2 linked regions of the Homo sapiens genome follow. Each later gene encodes a partner of the first gene's protein in a complex. Each region holds a gene or a part of one and is shown on either strand. Other genes may lie near its edges. A codon is read from its position in the direction of its gene.

Region 1 (8,930 bases):
GAAAAGGGTCTTCATCCATGGAGAAATTCATCAGCCCTCAAAAGCCTACATAAGCGGAGAAATTTTGCTCTACATAAAGCAAGTGACCTGAATTTTTAGTTCTGGGTATTAGAAAAGTGAGGAGGGTAAAAGAATATTTTAAGATGGCATGGGAACAGATCTATCGTACTCTCAGGCAAAAGAAATTTCATTCAACAGAATTAATCAAACCTCCCTTGTGACTATCTTCACATTCCACACTCGTGGTTGCATATTGCCCGGCTCCCAACACTTGGCTGTAGCTGAAAGCTTTCTCTACCTCCCCGCTTTGCTCTGGTGTCTCCCAGTGACCCTCCCAGTAGCTTGGCTTCAGCCCCAGGGCACAGAGCTCTGATCCAGGCTGAATAGCCATAGAACAGTTGATTCTGCTTTAACCCTGTGATCACGCTCAGTTCTTTTGATGTCTAGCACCACATTGTGCTTCAGACAAAAGCAAAAAGACTTCAAAAATACTGAGTGATTCAAAACTAATGCTTACATATAATGGTTATAAAAATATTCTGGGAATATACAAATATTTTACACTGATTTCCTTAGAGCTATAATCTTCTAACAATCTTCAAGCATATTTTGCCTCAAAGGCCATGTTAAGATTTTAAGTTCCCATACCCCCTAATTATCCTCTAATACCATATTTTCATAATTCAATGAGATTAATAGGGTAAACGCTCCATTCATTTTGAAATATATCCATATTCCATGCATCGGCTAGAAGGTAAGATCTTAAAAACTAAAAAAACAAAAGGAATTATATTTGTGTTGGAAATGCATTCATATAATTTTTTAGCTAGTGTGGTTTCCTAATATTACTTCCAGGCTCATAGATCATTCTCACAGCTAAAGCTGTATAACAATGAGATTTATAGATAATTAAAAAATAAACATTGCCATGATTTATCCCAAAACAATGAAATTTAATCTTACTACAATGATTTTGATAATTAAATAATACCTTGTAGGCTTTCTTGCAACCATCATCTCAACTAAATCTTACAAGGTCAATAAAATTTACTGAAGAGAAAGTCCCACTCTTATCCATGATTACATGATTACTGTTTTTCAAGTATCTGAACAAATAAGGTACAAATACAAAGTTTTAATGCCTTAACTAGAAAGGTAGGTATCACAGGTGGACATACATCAAAGGAAATATATCTGTGGCATCATGATTTTAATCATCTTCACTTTTTTAAATTTTCAGATGTTGGGGACATTTTAAGGAACATGTAAGGTCCTTTTAAATGTAATAGACTGTCTAGAAGAGTTGACTGCATTATCTTGGTTTCTCTTTCTCTGCCTTTAGATTACCATTTACCTTCTGGGAATGTCATACTTATTTCTACATCTGAGTTACTTCTCTCACGAGAAGCTGGAAAAAAAAATCAATTAATCACTATTTGTAAACACCCTTGGAGCTTTAGCTGAAAGGCCTTTTGACAAGCGAAGTATTATTCTTTAGTACCTTACGGCACTATTATGTCCTTACTGGTACATACTTATAAGTAATTTTTATTGGATCTTAAGACCCAGCATTTGTTTGTTTTTTATGACATCAGGCTAAATCTAGCAGTCACCTTGACTGGAAACCTGTTATGTTTAGTTGTCATGTGCAAAGTAATTGGCCTGGTGGAGGGGATAATACCTTATTTCTCATTTCAAGTAAAGCCTATCACACTGGATTATGGCTATTCACATTTGCCTGGCACCTTGCTTGGCACTTAATCTGAGTGCATAATGGGATTAATGAACTACGCAAACCACCAGATCTGGAGCTATCAACTTACCAGCCAGCATATGCATACATTCCATAATAAAAAGCCAGTGGCAACCGCGTAATACTTGAATCTCTTCCTGAAAAGGCGTCTTTAAAGTTCTGCGTTTGACCTGTAATTAGAATAGACTGATTTTAGGATTTTTCAAAGAATTGGTTCTTATTCACTCTTAACCAGAAACATGGGGGTGCGGAGAAACATACTGTTGTAAGTCTAGATTTCTTACTCTCTGTTGATTACCATCTTTATCAATACTGTACCCATTCTATAGAAGGGGTCCCAAAAGTATATTGATCATTAACACTATTTCATATTTCTCTTTTAATAAATTTATAACAAAGATGAAAATGGCATTGAAAAATAATCCTCTGTTTGAGTATGCCTCTATTGTGACCATAAAAGAAGACTAAAGGGTTTTCTGTAAATTATAATCTTTATGAATATGATAGAATTCTTAAAAGATAGAATTCTTAAAAAGATAATGTTTTGCTTGGCAAGAAAATGCGGAGAGGTATCCAAGGTTCTACCCTTAATGAGGAGATGGAAATAAATCCCAGGACTCCTTTCCTACACAATTTACCTTTCTGCTTTCTGTTTATCCCATGTTGTTCATTAGATGCCTACCTCCTAGAAGAGAAGTTGGAAAATCCTGAAGACCATGTGTGTCAACCCAAACTGCAAGCCTTTCTTTTTTTATTTTTTTCAAGATGGAGTCTCACTCTGTGGCCCAGGCTGGAGTGCAGTGGCACAATCTTGGCTCACTGCAACCTCCGCCTCCTGGGTTCAAGTGATTCTCCAGCCTCAGCCTCCTGAGTAGCTGGGATTACAGGAGCGCGCCATCATGCCCAACTAATTTTCATATTTTTAGTAGAGATGGGGTTTCACCATGTTGGCCAGGCTGGTCTTGAACTCCTGATCTTGTGATCCGCCCGCCTCGGCCTCCCAAAGTGTTAGGATTACAGGTGTGAGCCACTGCGTCTGGCTGCAAGCCTTTCTTATAGATAAAGTTTTCTTTATCTATAAGTTAAAAATGCCCATTCATGAAGTATTACCCATTCATGAAGTATTGCCTATGGCTGATTTCAACCTATAATAGCAGAGTTGAGACCATACAGCTAGCTTGAAAAATTGAAAATATTTACTCTCTTGTCCTTTACAGAGAAAGTCCACTCACTCTGTGACCCTGTCCTAGAGAATGACATGTTTTTTTTCCTAGAAATATTGAAAAGATATTATAATGAACTCTAAAATAAATAGGTTTCAACAAATTTTGCAGCAGCATGTGAATTGAACACTTCACCTTTTTCTCTATTTTATGAATCACATTGGAGCTTTTTCTTTTATATCTTTTGAATAGTTTTAAAAGTTAGAAATTCAGATTTACTTTAGTCAGTCAATATTCAAGCTTAAGCAGAAAAAATGTTTCTATTACCCAAAGAAAATAGCAAATGAGATTACCCAAATGGGAAGTGAGACTTTGTTTTAAAATAAAACTTCATGTAAATAAACAGAAGGGGGACAGGGGGTGGATGATGTGTATGAGACACTCTCTCTTCCAAGTCAAATCTCAGTTTTTCCTGCATTCATTGCCCAGGCATAACTTATATATAAATATAATATGTGTGAGTATGAAGACCAAAAATGGAGAATGTTGAATTATATACTAAACAATTTTTCTCTCAAATGATTCCCAAACATAGCTCACTTTTTAAATGACATGATAAATTCAGAAATGCCCATTTTACTAAAACATCATTGTGTCCTTCCAGGAGAAAAATATAAATAGTGGAATTCAGATAAAAGCATCTGTTGAATATTCTTTTATCATAATCTGTGGTCTCTTTGGCATAAAGGCACAATATTTCTTAGAGTGCAGCACCAAATAATCCATAAGAAAAACCAAATTCTATAAAGACTGGGTCACAAGCAAAGATCTTCAAAAGTGCCATTTTGAGAATATTACAAAAGAGAGGCATTTTGTTTCTAGAATTCAGGAATATTTTGGCTATATAACAGAGGTCTCATGAAGATTAAAGGCAATATTCAAAGGAAAGTTCAACAAACTCTCATAAGTGAATACATAACATACAACTACTTTCAGGATATGATTAGAATAGAAATAAAAGCACAATCTGTATTAACAAAGTCTCCTACTAGAGTTTCAGATTAATGTGAAAAATGTGTGATCATGTTAGAGATGAAGAAAATCACAATTTTACAGCAATCGAGCAAATATACCTGCTAATAATGGTCTCTAAAATGTTAAATTTACATTAAATGCGGTAATATTCTCAGGGAATTTCTCTGTTGTGTGAGATCTCTGAATAAGCCTGTCACATTAAGCATTGATATCATGATTATTGATTAAAGTGTCTCTGTATTTTAGCCACTAAAAAAACCTCAAGATATATCATGACCTCTGCTCTCAAGGAATTTGCAATAGAGCAACATTTGGGCAACCAAACCCTTCCTCATATACATATATAAATACCTGGTAAAAATTGAATAAAGTCTATAATGCTACCTATAGTATCTTACATTACACCAAAAAGAAGAAGAAAATAAATCTTAGTTTCAAGGGATAGCATATAATCTTTTGGAATCTAAACTAGTATTAAAGAACAGCCAATGACCCAGAGATTCTGCACTTTTCAAATACTGAAGAAACTCCTTACAGAAGACTGAAGAGTTAGCTCAGAAAAATAAAGCACTAACAAAACAGATTATTGTGCCTACATTCCTAACGAATAAGATAGAAATGAGCAGGCTAGCTCTGTGGAGGCCAAGGTGTATTAGAAGAGCAAGCTCCTGTCTTCTCTTCAGTGCAAGCTCTAACGGTCAAAATCTTCATTGTGTTTATTCTGCATTGGCTGCTGTTGCTGGATTTCATAAAAGCATTTCCGCCAGCAGGGCTCTAAAATCTCCCACTAGGCTTATTAAATGGGCAACAGCAGCTCCCTTTCCCAGCTCCAGAGTGGCTGATCCTTCAGTGTTTGTCATTATTTAATGCTTCTACCAACAGTGATGATTTTACCAAACGCTGGCATTTCCTTTTGCCTTGTGTAATTCTTCTGCAACGTCATTAAATTTCTCTAGATTCCCTTTCTTGGAACAGACAATATCAATGTAAACATTAAATACTTAACATGCCCAAGTTATGTCATTCCTTTACAATTTCTTCTCACTTTATTTCCTGCTATATTCCTGTTGCTAATTAAATACCACATGTGAATCTCTGTCCTCCAACAATTTCCACTGAATCCAAGCAACTGCATGTGCCTTCTTTCCTAAAACAAAAACTCTAAATGTCACCTCTCAATTTCTTTTTTTAAATTAAATGTTAAACTCTATAAAGCAAGTAATCGCAGAAATGCGAATTTTATATTAAAAATAATGTAACAATAAAAATTAAGTTTTTACAACTATTTTATTGTGATATAATTTTGGTGTTTAGGAATGCTGTTCCCGTATTGACTCCTCTGTTGAGGATACCACTCTCAATTTAAAAGGAATAATAACCAGAAAGTCAAAGAATTATTGATCATCTTTTATCACTTTCCAGATACCTTTTTCTCTTTAATTTTTATTACTATTATTGGACAATTTTAAAGTAAAAAAAAGACATATTTATCTTTAATTAAAACTAAGTGGCAGGTTTTTTTTTTTTCCACTTCGAGTTTTCACTCCAAACCATTAAACCTAGAAAATTCACTGATGCCTTATTTTGTTGCATGGCCCATTCTTAATCCTCTTTCTGCCATTCAACTGTAAAAACCAACTCACTCACAATGTAGCAGCCTTTCAAATCAATTAGATGACAATATAGAGTTTAAGTTCCACAGGCAGAGACTAATTAAGGATTCTGTTAGTACAAGCAAAAGTTAGTGTTAAAAAAGACCAAAAGCAGATACGTATTTTAAAAAGCATTTGCTTTTCAGTCCATACCTTTAATTAGCTGCATAACTCCAGGGACTATAATTATCAGAATTGCTGTGAGCTTGCAAAAGGTTAAGAAAATCTGGATCCGGGCGCTCCAGCTGACACTCATGCTATTTAGGACCATCACTACAGCTGCAAACAAATAGAGGAAGTTACAAAAGGTGAATTCTCACTGGCACAAAGACATTTTAGGTCCTTGTTACTCAAAGGGCAATCTGTGAGGCAGCAGTGTTGACATTACTTAGAAGTGTTTTAGAAATGCAGAATCTCAGGCTCTGCCCCAGGCCTAATGAATACAAATCTACATTTCAACAGGTTCTCCAGCTGGTTTTTATGCACATTGAAGTTTGAGAAACATGGATAAAGCCTCTGGACAATAAGAATTCTTCTCTTGTTCTTTGTATGTAAGAGTGGACATATATTGTAGTACTCTAACAATCACATAAAAATGTCTTCTAACCAAACCCAGCATCCAATCAGATGGCTGAATTTCACTGTCTAGCTTGATGTGACAACTCTTTCCTGTCTCTATGATGGTATGCCTGCCAATGTGGATCACACTCAAGAAGGAGCAAGAAGTGTAGAAGTTGGCTCAGATCTTATTTTTCACTCTCAGGACTAGCCTCAGGCAGCACTTTTCTTTTGGTTGTCTTCTTTCTAATTAGCATGTCAAGGGGCGACTTTCAACCCACCGTACAAGTATAGTTTTTCAAGATATGTTTCAGGGCTTCAGCACAATATTCTAAGTGATGAGTGCAAAAGACTAACCAGGCTAGAATGCACATTGGGTTCAAAGCCAGAAGAATTTTTCATTCTTACTGATGCTGTCTACAATTTCCCAAGCAGCAATAACTATCCACCTTCGACACCTTGTGGACCATGAAAACCTCAAGGATAGAGCAAGGGTTATTCATCGCTGTATCGCTGGTATCCAGCTCCATGCCTGGCCCAGGTAACTTAATACATTTTTGTTGAATGAATGAACTGGATCCTCAGTTAGAAAATCTAAGGCACAAGGGAAATGGTGATGCTCTAAGACCTTTCTCCCCTACTCTGCTGGGATGACTGAGGTTATTCTAGACAGTGGTTTTCAACTTTATACTCTTTCCACAACCTTATGCTTGGAACAACCCAAAACACTACTTTATTCCTGACATTTACAGTTATTAACTATAACCTTTATATTTATAAAGGTATATTCTCCCTAAACAAATATTTAAAATGTAAAGATATTTCTCAAAGAATGAAACAAAACTCCTACAGAATTCTTATTATTCAAATTGAAATTGGAAGTTTTCCTTATATATAGTAATGAGTCCGCCTCACAGTTTTCACTGCCTGATATAGTTACTAGCTCACTTCAGAATTTAACAATCAATGCAAATGTCAGCAACACATAATCTTTAAAGGCAAAAAAATGGAAATAGCCTAAACCTCCTAAAGGAAGGCTAATTAAGGTATATCATTTTAATAGTTTATATGCAGCCACTTAAAATTATGAGGCAGTTAAATATTTATTACAAGAAAGGATATTCATGATATATTACTGATCAATACAGCAAGTTAGAGGAATGGATGGAAAGAAGGAAGGAAGGAAGAAGGAAAAGAAGGAAGGAAGGATGAAAGGAAGGAAGGAAGGAAGGAAGGAAGGAAGGAAGGAAGGAAGGAGAAATAGATCTGGAAACATATTTACCAAAACATCAACAGCAGGTGTTTATAAGTGATAGAACACTAAATAATTTTCAATTTTTTAAATTTATTTTTAGGAATAGTTTAATAAATTTTATGATGAACATATAGCATTTTGGTGGCTATAGTTTCAAATACTGAATTGTATACTTGAAATATACTTAAATGTTCTCACCACAGAACAAAACAAAAAAAAGAGGGGTAACTAAATGATGTGACAGAGGTGTTAACTCACTTGATTGAGACAATAATTTCACTATATATATATATATATATATATATATATATATAAATAAAATCATTACATTGTACACCCTAAAATTACAATTTTATTTGTTGTATATACCTCAATAAAGATGAAAAAATTTTCAAAAGTAAATGAAGCAATAAAATACATTTTGTTTTTGGAAAAAACTCCAAGATGGGAAAAATAAGGGATCAGAAGATCTCATACAAAGTGAAATACAGGGTTACTAACGAAGAAATATTTCAAAGGAGTAATTATGAGAATGATCAAAAAGGCCAAACCCCTGAATAAGCTACAGGGGCATCTAAGGGGGGTTATTTCATCTGTGTTGGAAGCTGAAAACATGAAGGGATAGACAGGTCTGTTGTCAATGACAAAGTGCATTATTTTATCAGAGGAATCACAAAAATAAAATTATTTATCTCTCCCCAATATAAGGCACTTATATATGGAAAATAAGTTAGTGTAACTCTGCTCCCTGCTCCATCATCCAGTGATTCCTTTCCTTTTCTATGCAAATGACTGTGTGATGAGTCATTACACAATAATGATTATTGTTTTAATTAAGGAGGTTCAACGTTGGTGTAAAAGTGAAAAAATTGTCTCATGTGGCCACCAGCAACAAAAGGGCAGTGTTTTCTTTCAAATAGGGCTCCTAAAACCCAAAGCACTCTGTATTTATGAAAGTTCTTTCCACAGTAGAAAAGAACTGTTATATAGAGAGAAAGAGAGAAAAAGAAAGGAGAGGAAAGGAGAAGGATAAAAACGAAAAGAGGCAGGCAGGGAGGAAGGAAGGAGAGAGAGAGAGGCATTCTTATTTTTGGAACAACTAACTATATGTTTGAAAATAAGAAAGAGGTTTTGTTACTTTCATAAAGAGTATAAGTACCTAATGTCTATTGAAATATTAAAAAAACTGGGTATTTGGGATTTTAAAAAATACTTTGTAAAGTTTTCTTAGGCAAATGGAAGACAAAATTAAACAGATATTATGAATTGATCATCTCACCCTGCTTTCCTCTCAGATAGCTTAACAAAAATTCTCATTAAGATGCTAGTACACTGCTGGTGGGAATGTAAATTAGTATAGCCACTATAGAAAACAGTATGGAAGTGTCTCAAAAAACTAAAAATAAATCTATCATATGATCCAGCAATCCCATTGCTGGGTACTTGATTGTGGTGATAGTTTCACAGGTGAATACATACATCACACTTTATCAAACTGTACATTTAAAGCATGT
Region 2 (9,795 bases), on another chromosome or scaffold:
GAGGCAGGAGAATCGCTTGAACCCAGGAGGCAGAGGTTGCAGTGAGCCAAGATCACGCCATCGCACCCCAGCCTGGGCAAAAAGAGCGGAACTCCATCTCAAAAAAAAAAAAAAAAAAAAAAAAAAAAAAAAAAAGCTAAAGAAAGAATAAAGGTAAAGAAAATGCTCTAGACTAGGAATCCCCCCTTCTTAGGCCTAGCACTCCACTGAGGGGTTCCCACATTGGAGCTGAGTCAGCAGAATGGCTCCTGCACCCACCTGTCTTCACTGAAGCCCTTGGTGATATTTTGCCACTCAGCCAAGAATGAGGATGCATCCTAGAAAGAAAAAAGCAGAATCAAGGACCAGAGAATATTATGAGGCTCTAGCTGAGTCCCTCTGTTCTCGCCCAAGCTTTGTCCCTAATGTGGAAAGGGAACTCACCTTCAGATTCTCTATGTCCCGAACCTGGAACCCATCCACGCCAGCTTGCAGCCAAAACTCCAGAGCATCCTATAGGGGGCAGAAGAATAAAGGACAGACATCAGTTCTCAGGAAAAGGCTCAGAAAATTCCAGCCCACACTAAACCTCACCCACCACACACTTCCCCGGGAGCTGGGGAGAGTCCTGTGCCTTGCCTGGGTCTTCCCCACCTGCACTACAAAGGCTTAGCCTTTGGACCCCTCCAGCTCTACCCTTCCACTCATTTTCTTAGTGCTACAGCATTTTACTTCTCATTCTTGCCTCTGGCAAATCACACAGCTTCAACTTTGAAAGCCACAGAAAAGGCCCCAGAGAAAAGGTATGTCCATAAACATAACTTCGTTTAACACTTAGCATTGGAATGTTAGCATACCTATTTTAGAGATGAAGAAACAGACCCAGAGAAGCAGGGAGACGCGTCCACAGTCATAATCAGTGAGCAGCAGACAGGATCTAAAATGTCAGTCAAGATCCCCCCTCTCCCAGTTTCCTGAGGCCTGGGGAAGGTGTGAGTACAATAACTGCTCAGAGCAAGGCCAAGGATGAAAGATTGAAATTCAAAGCATAGCCCCAGGGCAGTTTAGATTTGAAAAGAGGCCAGTGCTGCTGAATGGAATCCTGGCAGTCCTGCACACACTGTGGAACTTCACCCCCATTCTCCTTTTCTTCCCTTTCTCTGGGCCATGTACTCTCTCCTCTGGTCTCCATTTCCATCTGAGGGTACCGCCCCTCATGCCAAACCATCCAAAAACATTCCCTCATCAGCAACTTTTAAAGGGTCCCCTAGTAACTGGCAAGGCCTAAACTGGATGATCCCGGGGTCCTACCCAAATGCTGGGAGTCCAGAATTCTATCTTAGAATCACAGCTACCAGCAGTGTCAGTATCTGCTTCCATTTTTGTTCTACCCATTCTGAACAGGTCAGTGTCCTAGGACCCAGACATCAGGAGCTAGGTGACATTCAAAGCCCTACTCCTAGCCTGCTGGGTACACATTTGAACCTATGGCAAATTATATACCTTGTATGGTTATACAGAGAATTAGAAAACATCTATAAAATACTTGGCATAGAGTCCCAGACACATAGGAGTACCCCAGTGCTTATAATTTCAGACTGGGCTCTATTCCAAACACATCAAACAAGAACTGGGAAACCAGTCAGGACAGGATTCTCACAGAGAAAGGGCTTCCTCTCCCAAAAGAAAGAAAAATCAAACTTCCAGACTGACTTCTGAGAAGGTCCCTTCCTGGCACTGTCTCATCCTCAGAGTCAAGGAAATAAGAAAAATAAGAGGTCAGAAAAGGAACAAGAAAAACAGGTGTGCTATTGGCCTATCCTTTGGCTATAGGAGGAGGCATTCCTCCTTGGTCCTAAGGAGCAAAGGGACCCTCAGCTGGAGTCAGGCTGGGTCTACAGGGCTTGCTGTGAAAGGACTGTCCCAGCCCCAGCATCTGACTTCCACCAGCCATCAGCTCCAACACTCACCTTCACCTTGGTGGCCACAGTGTCAACCTGAGTGGAGAACCACGAGTTCTCACCCCGGTAGTTGGGAGTAAGGTCCAGAATGACACGGATGCCTAAAACAACGGAGGAAGACGCAATCATGAGACAGTCTATGAGTTAAGGGAAAATAAGGAAATCACAAATGCAAGTCACTGAGTGTTTCCTATGTATTACTTGGTACAAAAGCTTGAATTTGAACCCGGGCAAAATTCATTCCATTGAAACAGATGTGAGCAAGGAAGGGCCTTAAGATATGGGAAGGCAGGCCAGGCGAGTTCAAAACCAGACCGGTCAACATGTTGAAAATTGTCTCTACTAAAAATAAAAAAATTATCTGGGTGTGGTGGCACACGGCTGTAGTACCAGCTACTCAGGAGGCTGAGGCACGAGAATCGCTTGAACCCTGGGGGAGGAGGCTGCAGTAAGCTGAGATCGTTCCACTGCACTGCAGCCTGGGTGACAAGAGTGAGACTCCATCTCAAAAAAAAAAAAAGATATTGGAAGGCAGAAAGTTTATAGTGCAGAGAAGTGGCCCCTGTGTTCCCCACTCCCAAAGTGAACCTTTTTAAACATGTGTCTATATCGAGTCGTAAAACAATATTTGGGATTCCCCCCCCCCAAAAAAACCTACTGTTTTACAAGTTTAAAACCACTGGTTTAGTAAATATCTATATTTTGCAAATAAGGGCACTGAAGCCCAGAAGTTAAATGACCTGCTCAAGATTCCACAGCCAAGTAGAAAGCCCCCAGACGACTGGACAAATCCATTTTAGGCTGAAGACTAACAAATCTCCCCTCTACCTGCCCTAGGAAAACTCAGAGCCAGTTAGCAGGAAACCAGACAAAAGTTCTAGCCTACTTTTCCTCTGGCCAAGTCCTTTCTAGCTGTTTCCTTGGGAACCCCAGGATACCCACTCTTTTTTTTAGCCGATTGCAAGAGACTGTCAAAATCTTCCTTGGAGCCAAAATTGGGGTCGATCTGCAGCAAGTCAGTCTGAGCGACATCATCCTTCTGGTTCTTGTGAATTGGACCCAGCACAAGGCCCTTCACCTTCAGAGAGCTCAGGTAATCGAGACGCCCCTTCAGACCTGAAATGGGGGCTGGGTTAACAAGTGAGGCCCCTCTGAGAGGCCCCTGACCTCCCCACCCTCCCTTCTCCCAGCGCCTAAGGGTGGGACGGGGAGGGGGCAAAGGGGGAGAGAGGGAGGCAAGGCTGAATCACGAGACTCAGAGGAGCTGATGTAAGGAGTCCTGCACATTACTTCAGAAACCGGTTGCAACTGGCTTCTGGCGCCGCGGGGAAGGAGGACGCTGAGTCACCCACCCTCGTGACGGAGTGAGGGGCGGGTCGGCTTTCTTCAAAGAAAGGAGGGAAGGACAATGTGCCGGGGAGGGGGTGGGGGAAGGGGGAACAGTCGTCGGTACGGGATGGAGGGAAGAACCATCTAGATCCGTCTGGGGACAGGGGAGGGGGTCGGTGCAAGCCACCAGATTCAACCGGAGGTACCCGGGACGGGGGCGCGCTGCACTCACCCGCCAGGTTGCCCGCGCCGTGGCCCTGGAAGGCCTGAAGGTCGCCGATGCGGTAGAGGGCGCCCGTGTGCCACCACTTCTGCGCCGGTAGCTCGCGACAACGCGGCGCTCGCACGATTATGACCACGGCACCAGCAAGCATGCCGAGCCAGCCGAGCCAGAAGAGCAGCAGCAGTGCCCAGCGGGTGCGTACCCAGCCGGGGCTGCCTGCCACCTTCAGCAGCTCCTCCTTGGACAGGCCCGTGAACTTAGCCGCGGCTGCCGCCTCCGCCTCGTCTTCCGCCACCTTGATCTTCACCAGACCATTCTTCTCGGCTCCCGCCAGGGACATGGCCGCCCCAGACGCCGCGTTCATCGGCTGCTTCTCGGGCTCTAACTCATTCAGCTCCACCTCCTTCATATCCACCTCGGTGTCCTGGCTCATGGTGCCTGCAGAACCGGCGACACGACGCAGCTTGCGGTCAGATGGTGGCTCAACCCCTACCTGGACCCTCGGACCCAGAACGCTCTCCCCGGCCTCTGTGCCTCCGCGCAGTTTCGGCTACTGCATCTGCTCAGCAGCAGGCGCGGCCTCTGGGAAGGGGCAGCGGAGCCCCGCCCCGGCCCGCCCCTTAAGGTGGAACCTCGGGGACTGCCCCAGCCGTGGGCGGCTCAGGGTAGTAAAGTCAGGAACACGCCTCCGACAGTACTTCCTGCATGGTCCAATTTCTCATCTCCAACCTGTCTAACCCTAAAGTTCTTTTCAACCTGATTCTGGGAAGGCCTGGCACGGAGCCACCTTTAAGTGGACTAGGCCTGTGATCCTGCCCCAAATCCCGAGGCCCCTCCAGTGTCCTTTAGGCCTTACCGCCCCCAAACGCCCCTCTTCTTCCATTCCGGCAGGCTAGTGACTACCCCAACACCATCCTCCATTTGCCCCTGGTTCACGGCTCCGGCCGCCGTCTGGTTTTCCCAACTTTGCATGGCTACTTGCACTCTCAGAGGCAGCCAGTCACAACTTCTGCCTTTTCCCCCACCAAGGCTTGCCCTCTCAGGCCTCTGGGACTTGGCGCTAGACCTCTGCTAGACCTCTGCTTCCGTGCACGGCTTACTCCCACTCGTTTTTCAAGACTCATCTTGAATTCATTTCAAGAAATTCCTCATGCAGCAACTATTTATTGTGTACTCACTACAATACTTTGCTTTGTTAACTTTATTGAATTTAACACTAATCCAGCCTTCTTCACAGTACTTTAAAATGAATGGTTTGGGCAGGAAGGTTGAGGTAGACACCCCCCTTCTTATCCTACCCCACCCCCAGCTGCTAGCACCTGGATGTTTGGCAGCTAGGAATCAGACATCCAGAAGAGACTGATAGGGCTGTAATGAACATAACAGAGCTAGGTCTCAGAGGCATCCACCTTTTTTGTGGAATAGACCAGAAGATGCCATGGCCAGACTCTTACCCACCTTGCAGGAACTCCCACAGTTATCCCCAAACTCCCCCAAGGTCCTGTCTCCCTATCACTTCACTATGTTAGGCCTTGGAGGCAGCTGGTACTGCAGAGGCTTTGAAGAAGCCTAGAATTCCCTCCACAGGGTCCTTGGATTGAAGTGGGGCAGAGACAGGGTTCACAGCAGGGAACTACCGGACATCAACACCGTGGGGTGCCAACACTCTCAGGAACTCCTTGTTCCTAAACAGTGCCAGTTGGGCTACTTTCAGAGAGGAGCTGGAGGAAATCGGTTCTTTCTCCCTTTCCCACCTAGGCTGGAAGCCAAGATTGCTGTGTATTTGGAAGAAAGCAAAAGCCAAGATCTGAAGTAATAGCATAGAGAAAAGGGTCACCCTCTGCTAGTCCCCTCTGCAACCCCAGGCATCCAACCCCATCCCCACCCTAGGAACAAGGGGTGCACGGGGCAGCCCCTGGGAGAAGGCAAGCAAGTGGGTTCAGACCAGTGCTCAAAGATAATAAGAGATCCAAGGTGCCCTGCATGTGCCAGATAAGAAGTGCCAACCAGAGGTTCTGAATGGACTATATCTCGAGCACAAAAGCTCAAGGCTGGGCGCAGTGTGACTCATGCCTGTCACCTAGCCCTTTAGGAGGCCAAGGAGGGAGGATTCCTTGAGGCCAGGAGTTTAAGACCAGACGGGGCAACATAGTGAGACTCCATTTCTAAATAAATAAAAAAATAAATTTTAAAATTATCTGGGCCTGGCTGGGTGTGGTGGCTCACACCTGTAATCCCACCTACTAATCCCTGTAATCCCACTTCTCATGCTGTGGCATGAGAATCGCTTGAACCCAGGAGGTAGAGGTTGCAGTGAGCCAAGAATGGGCCACTGCACTCCAGTCTGGGTGATAGAGCAAGACTCTGCCTCAAAAAAACTAACAGGCCAGGTGTGGTGGCTGACACCTGTAATCCCAGCACTTTGGGAGGCTGAGGGTGGCGGATAACTTGAGGTCAGGAGTTCGTGACCAGCCTGGCCAACATGGTGAAACCCCATCTCTACTAAAAATACAAAAATTAACTGGACATAGTAGCACACGCCTGTAGTCCCAGACTTGGAGGGGTGAGGCATGAGAATCGCTTGAACCCGAGAGGCAGAGGTTGCAGTGAGCCAAGATTGCGCGGCTGCACTCCAGCCTGGGTGACAGAGTGAGACTCTGTCTCAAAAAAGAAAAAAAAAGGCCAGGCGTGGTGTCTCACACCTGTAATACCAGCACTTTGGGAGGCCGAGGCAGGTGGATCAAGAGGTCAGGAGACCGAGACCATCCTGGCTAACACAGTGAAACCCCGTCTCTACTAAAAATGCAAAAAAAAAAAAAAAAAATCAGCCAGGCGTGGTGGCGGGTGCCTGTAGTCCCAGCTACTTAGGAGGCTGAGGCAGGAGAATGACGTGAACCTGGGAGGCGGAGCTTGCAGTGAGCCAAAATCGCGCCACTGCACTCCAGCCTGGGATACAGAGCAAGACTCCGTCTCAAAAAAAAAAAAAATTATCATCTGTAATTGGTGATGTGCCCCTGGAGTCCCATGAGATGCCAACACTCAAGGGAAGCAAAAGCAGGAGGATCACTTGAGTCCAGGAGTTTGTGAGGCTGCAGTGAGCCATGGTGGCACCACTGCATACCAGCCTAGGAGACAGAGCGAGACCCTGTCTCTAAAAATAAGTAAGAACAAGGTTGAGAACTGTGGGGTCAGAAGCTGTCTTTGAGATGGTCCAACATGACACAGTATCTCACTCACAGATCCTCATGGCTCCAAATGGCTGAAGTCAATTCCTTTTGTTTTTTGTTTTTTTTTTTTTGAGACAGGGTCTCACACTGTCACCCAGCATGGAGTGCAGTGGCGCGATCTCAGCTCACTGCAACCTGTGCCTCTCAGGTTCAAGCGATTCTTCTTCCTGAGCCTCCCCAGTAGTTGAGATTATAGGAGGCGTGCACCGCCACACCCGGCTAATTTTGTATTTTTAGGAGAGACAGGGTTTCACCATGTTGGCCAGGCTGGTCTTGAACTCCTAACTTCAGGTGATCTGCCCGCCTCAGCCTCCCAAAGTGCTGGGATTACAGGCATGAGCCACTGTGCCCAGCCTGAAGTCAATTCCTTCTGCATGCATAAAGAGGATAACAGCTTGCCTCTCCAATCTTATCAGCCACCACCTGCTTCACAGGCACTAGCCTCCAGCCACATCAGCCTTCAAACACCTGCCAGACTCACAACACACCAGGCTTTTTCAGGCAGAGCTCTGCATCTTGTACATGCCATACCTCTGCTGTTGGCCCTTCCTGTTTGTCCACTCAACCTCATGAGTTCCTATTCATTCAAGATCTAGCTCAAGTGACAGCTTTTCTCAACTCCCCAGACAAAATTACTTTCCCTCCACCATGCATCTGCCTCTGCTACAATCATGTCCCATTTGTTTATTACATTTGTTTGTCTGGATGTCTCTTTGTCCTTGAAGACAAGTGGCAGGAGCCTTGTGCTATTGTGGACGAACCTGCCTATTCGGAGGCAGCATATAGTAGGCACTTCGCAAGTGTTTGGTAAATAAGTGGATGAACTATGTCAATCAAAACCAATATCTCCCTTCTTAGAAACAACTAAACAGGCTAGGCACGGTGGATCACACCTGTAATCAGCACTTTGGGAGACCAAGGCAGGCAGATCAATTGAGGTCAGGAGTTCAAGACCAGCCTGGCCAACATGGTGAAACGCTGTCTCTACTAAAAATACAAAAATTAGCCAGGCGTGGTGGTGGGCACCTGTAATCCCAGCTACTCCGGAGGCTGAGGTGAGAGAATCACTTGAACCCAGGAGGCAGAGGTTGCAGTGAGCCCAGATCGCACCACTGTACTGCAACCTGGACAACACAGCAAGACTATCTCTCAAAAAAAAAAAAAAAGAAAAGGAAGAAGAAAAAAGAAACAACTGAAAAAAACTAGCATGTGAAGACAAAGGCAGGAAAATGAAAAGGAATTTAAATAACGCTGTATCATATCAAGATAAACCTGTTGCTGCAGGAAAACAAACCAAGACTTGTAACTGTTCAACCAAAATAAAACAAACTGCCAGGCACTGTGGCTCACCTGTAATCCCAGCACTTCCGGAGGCCGAGGCAGTCGGATCAATTGAGGTCAGGAATTCAATATCAGCCTGGCTAACATGGTGAAACCCCGTTTCTACTAAAAATACAAAAATTAGCCAGGTATGGTGGTGCGTGCCTGTAATTTCAGCTACTCAGGAGGCTGTGGCAGACAAATCACTTGAACCCATGAGGCAGGGATTGCAGTGAGCCAAGATCGCGCCATTGCACTCCAGCCTGGGCAACAAGAGCAAAACTCTGTCTCAAAAAAATAATATAAAATATAATAATAAAACTAATAAATTAGGAGATGGAGGACAGGAAAACAAAAAGACTACAGAGAAAAGACTAGAGAAATGGACCAGAGGTGAGTAAAGAGCCTCAGATCCTGCCATATGTGTTGATATAAAGCTTAATATTTACTATAGGAACACAAAGAATATAATTTTTCAAGAATTTAGCCTTCAAGAGAAGGCTGGGCAAAGCAAAGGAAAAAAAGCAGTTTGGCAGCCCAGATGCCAATAAGGTCCACTTTACACTCAGACAGACAGATGGCGGTGGAGCCCTGAAATGCAGGGGGCCAAGTATATAAAGAAAGTTCCTTTCTAACCCTCTGCTGCAAAAATCCATGTCACATGCTTCCTAACACATGAGGATTATTACTTGATCTTAGCCTGAAAACAGGACATTTATTTTTCCTCAAACATGTAAAAAGGATTGACCAGGCACAGCAGCTCATGCCTTTAATCCCAGCGCTCTGGGAAGCTAAGGCAGGAGGATCACTTAAGCCCAGTAGTTTGAGACCAGCCTCGGCAACATAGGGAGACCCCATCTCTACAAAAATTAACAAATTAGCCAGGCATGGTGGCTCACCCCTGTGGTCCCAGTTACTAAGGAGGCTGAAGTGGGAGGATCACTTGAGCCCTCAGGTTGAGGCAGCAGTGAGCTGTGATCACAATCACACCATTGCATTCCAGCCTGGCTGACAGGGTGACCCTATCTGAAAACAAACAAACAGGCTGGGCGCAGTGGCTCATGCCTGCAATCCCAGCACTTTGAGAGGCTGAGGCGGGCGGATCACCTGAGGTCAGGAGTTTGAGACCAGCCTGGCCAACGTGGTGAAACCCCATCTCTACTAAAAATACAAAAATGAGCTGGGCATGGTGGTGGCTGCCTGTAATCCCAGCTACTCAGGAGGCTGAGGCAGGAGAATCGCTTGAACCTGGGAGGCAGAGGTTGCAATGGGCCCAGATCGTGCCATTGCACTTCAGCCTGGGCAACAAGAGCAAAACTCCATCTCGAAAAATAAACAAACAACTAAAAACATCTAAGAAGGACTTTTTTTTTTGAGATGAAGTCTCGCTCTGTCGCCCAGGCTGGAGTACAGTGGTGCGATCTCAGCTCACTACAAGCTCTGCCTTCCAAGGTTCACACTATTCTCCTGCGGACTCCAGGTGCCCACCACCACGCCCAGCTAATTTTGATTTTTTTGTGTATTTTTAGTAGAGACGGGGTTTCACCATGTTAGCCAGGATGGTCTTGATCTCCTGATCTCGTGATCCACTCGCCTCGGCCTCCCAAAGTGCTGGGATTACAGGCGTGAGCCACCGTGCCCGGCCACATCTAAGAAGGATTTCTAAAGGCAGAGAGAAGATGGGAGGACAGCTAGAAACTCTTCAGGAGACTGTCTCTGTCCAACAGCCTCCATAAATCTTCGAAAGCCCAAGACT

What was found.
Region 2: the proteins of SLC7A11 (region 1) and SLC3A2 are in contact, whole or in part, in a cryo-EM structure (PDB 7P9V), measured with the Homo sapiens proteins. Residues at the interface, in NP_055146.1 of Homo sapiens: Leu151, Phe154, Phe155, Ile156, Gln157, Cys158, Glu159, Pro161, Leu163, Ala164, Leu167, Ile168, Ala170, Val171, Thr174, Val175 (codon at 5,880), Val178 (codon at 5,871), Gln217 (codon at 1,921), Gln219 (codon at 1,915), Val360, His373, Thr487, Gln489, Ile490, Ile491, Glu493, Val494, Val495; in NP_002385.3 of Homo sapiens: Glu167, Leu170, Ala173, Trp178, Thr181, Arg182, Phe189, Trp190, Trp193, Met196, Leu197, Gly199, Ala200, Ile203, Ile204, Ala207, Arg209, Cys210, Glu212, Leu213, Lys299, Arg534, Gln559.

Annotation. Positions count from the first base shown.
Region 1 is NC_000004.12:138,217,443-138,226,372, forward strand, and holds part of SLC7A11 (cystine/glutamate transporter), read right to left. Parts: intron 5,883-8,930; coding exon 5,757-5,882; intron 1,924-5,756; coding exon 1,824-1,923; intron 1-1,823. UniProt on the Homo sapiens protein: Heterodimer with SLC3A2, that functions as an antiporter by mediating the exchange of extracellular anionic L-cystine and intracellular L-glutamate across the cellular plasma membrane.
Region 2 is NC_000011.10:62,875,154-62,884,948, reverse strand, and holds the start of SLC3A2 (amino acid transporter heavy chain SLC3A2), read right to left. Parts: upstream 4,054-9,795; 5' UTR 3,931-4,053; coding exon of another isoform or gene 3,926-3,930; coding exon 3,502-3,925; intron 3,251-3,501; exon of another isoform or gene 3,057-3,250; coding exon 2,883-3,056; intron 2,042-2,882; coding exon 1,950-2,041; intron 961-1,949; exon of another isoform or gene 837-960; intron 493-836; coding exon 424-492; intron 318-423; coding exon 259-317; intron 1-258. UniProt on the Homo sapiens protein: Acts as a chaperone that facilitates biogenesis and trafficking of functional transporters heterodimers to the plasma membrane.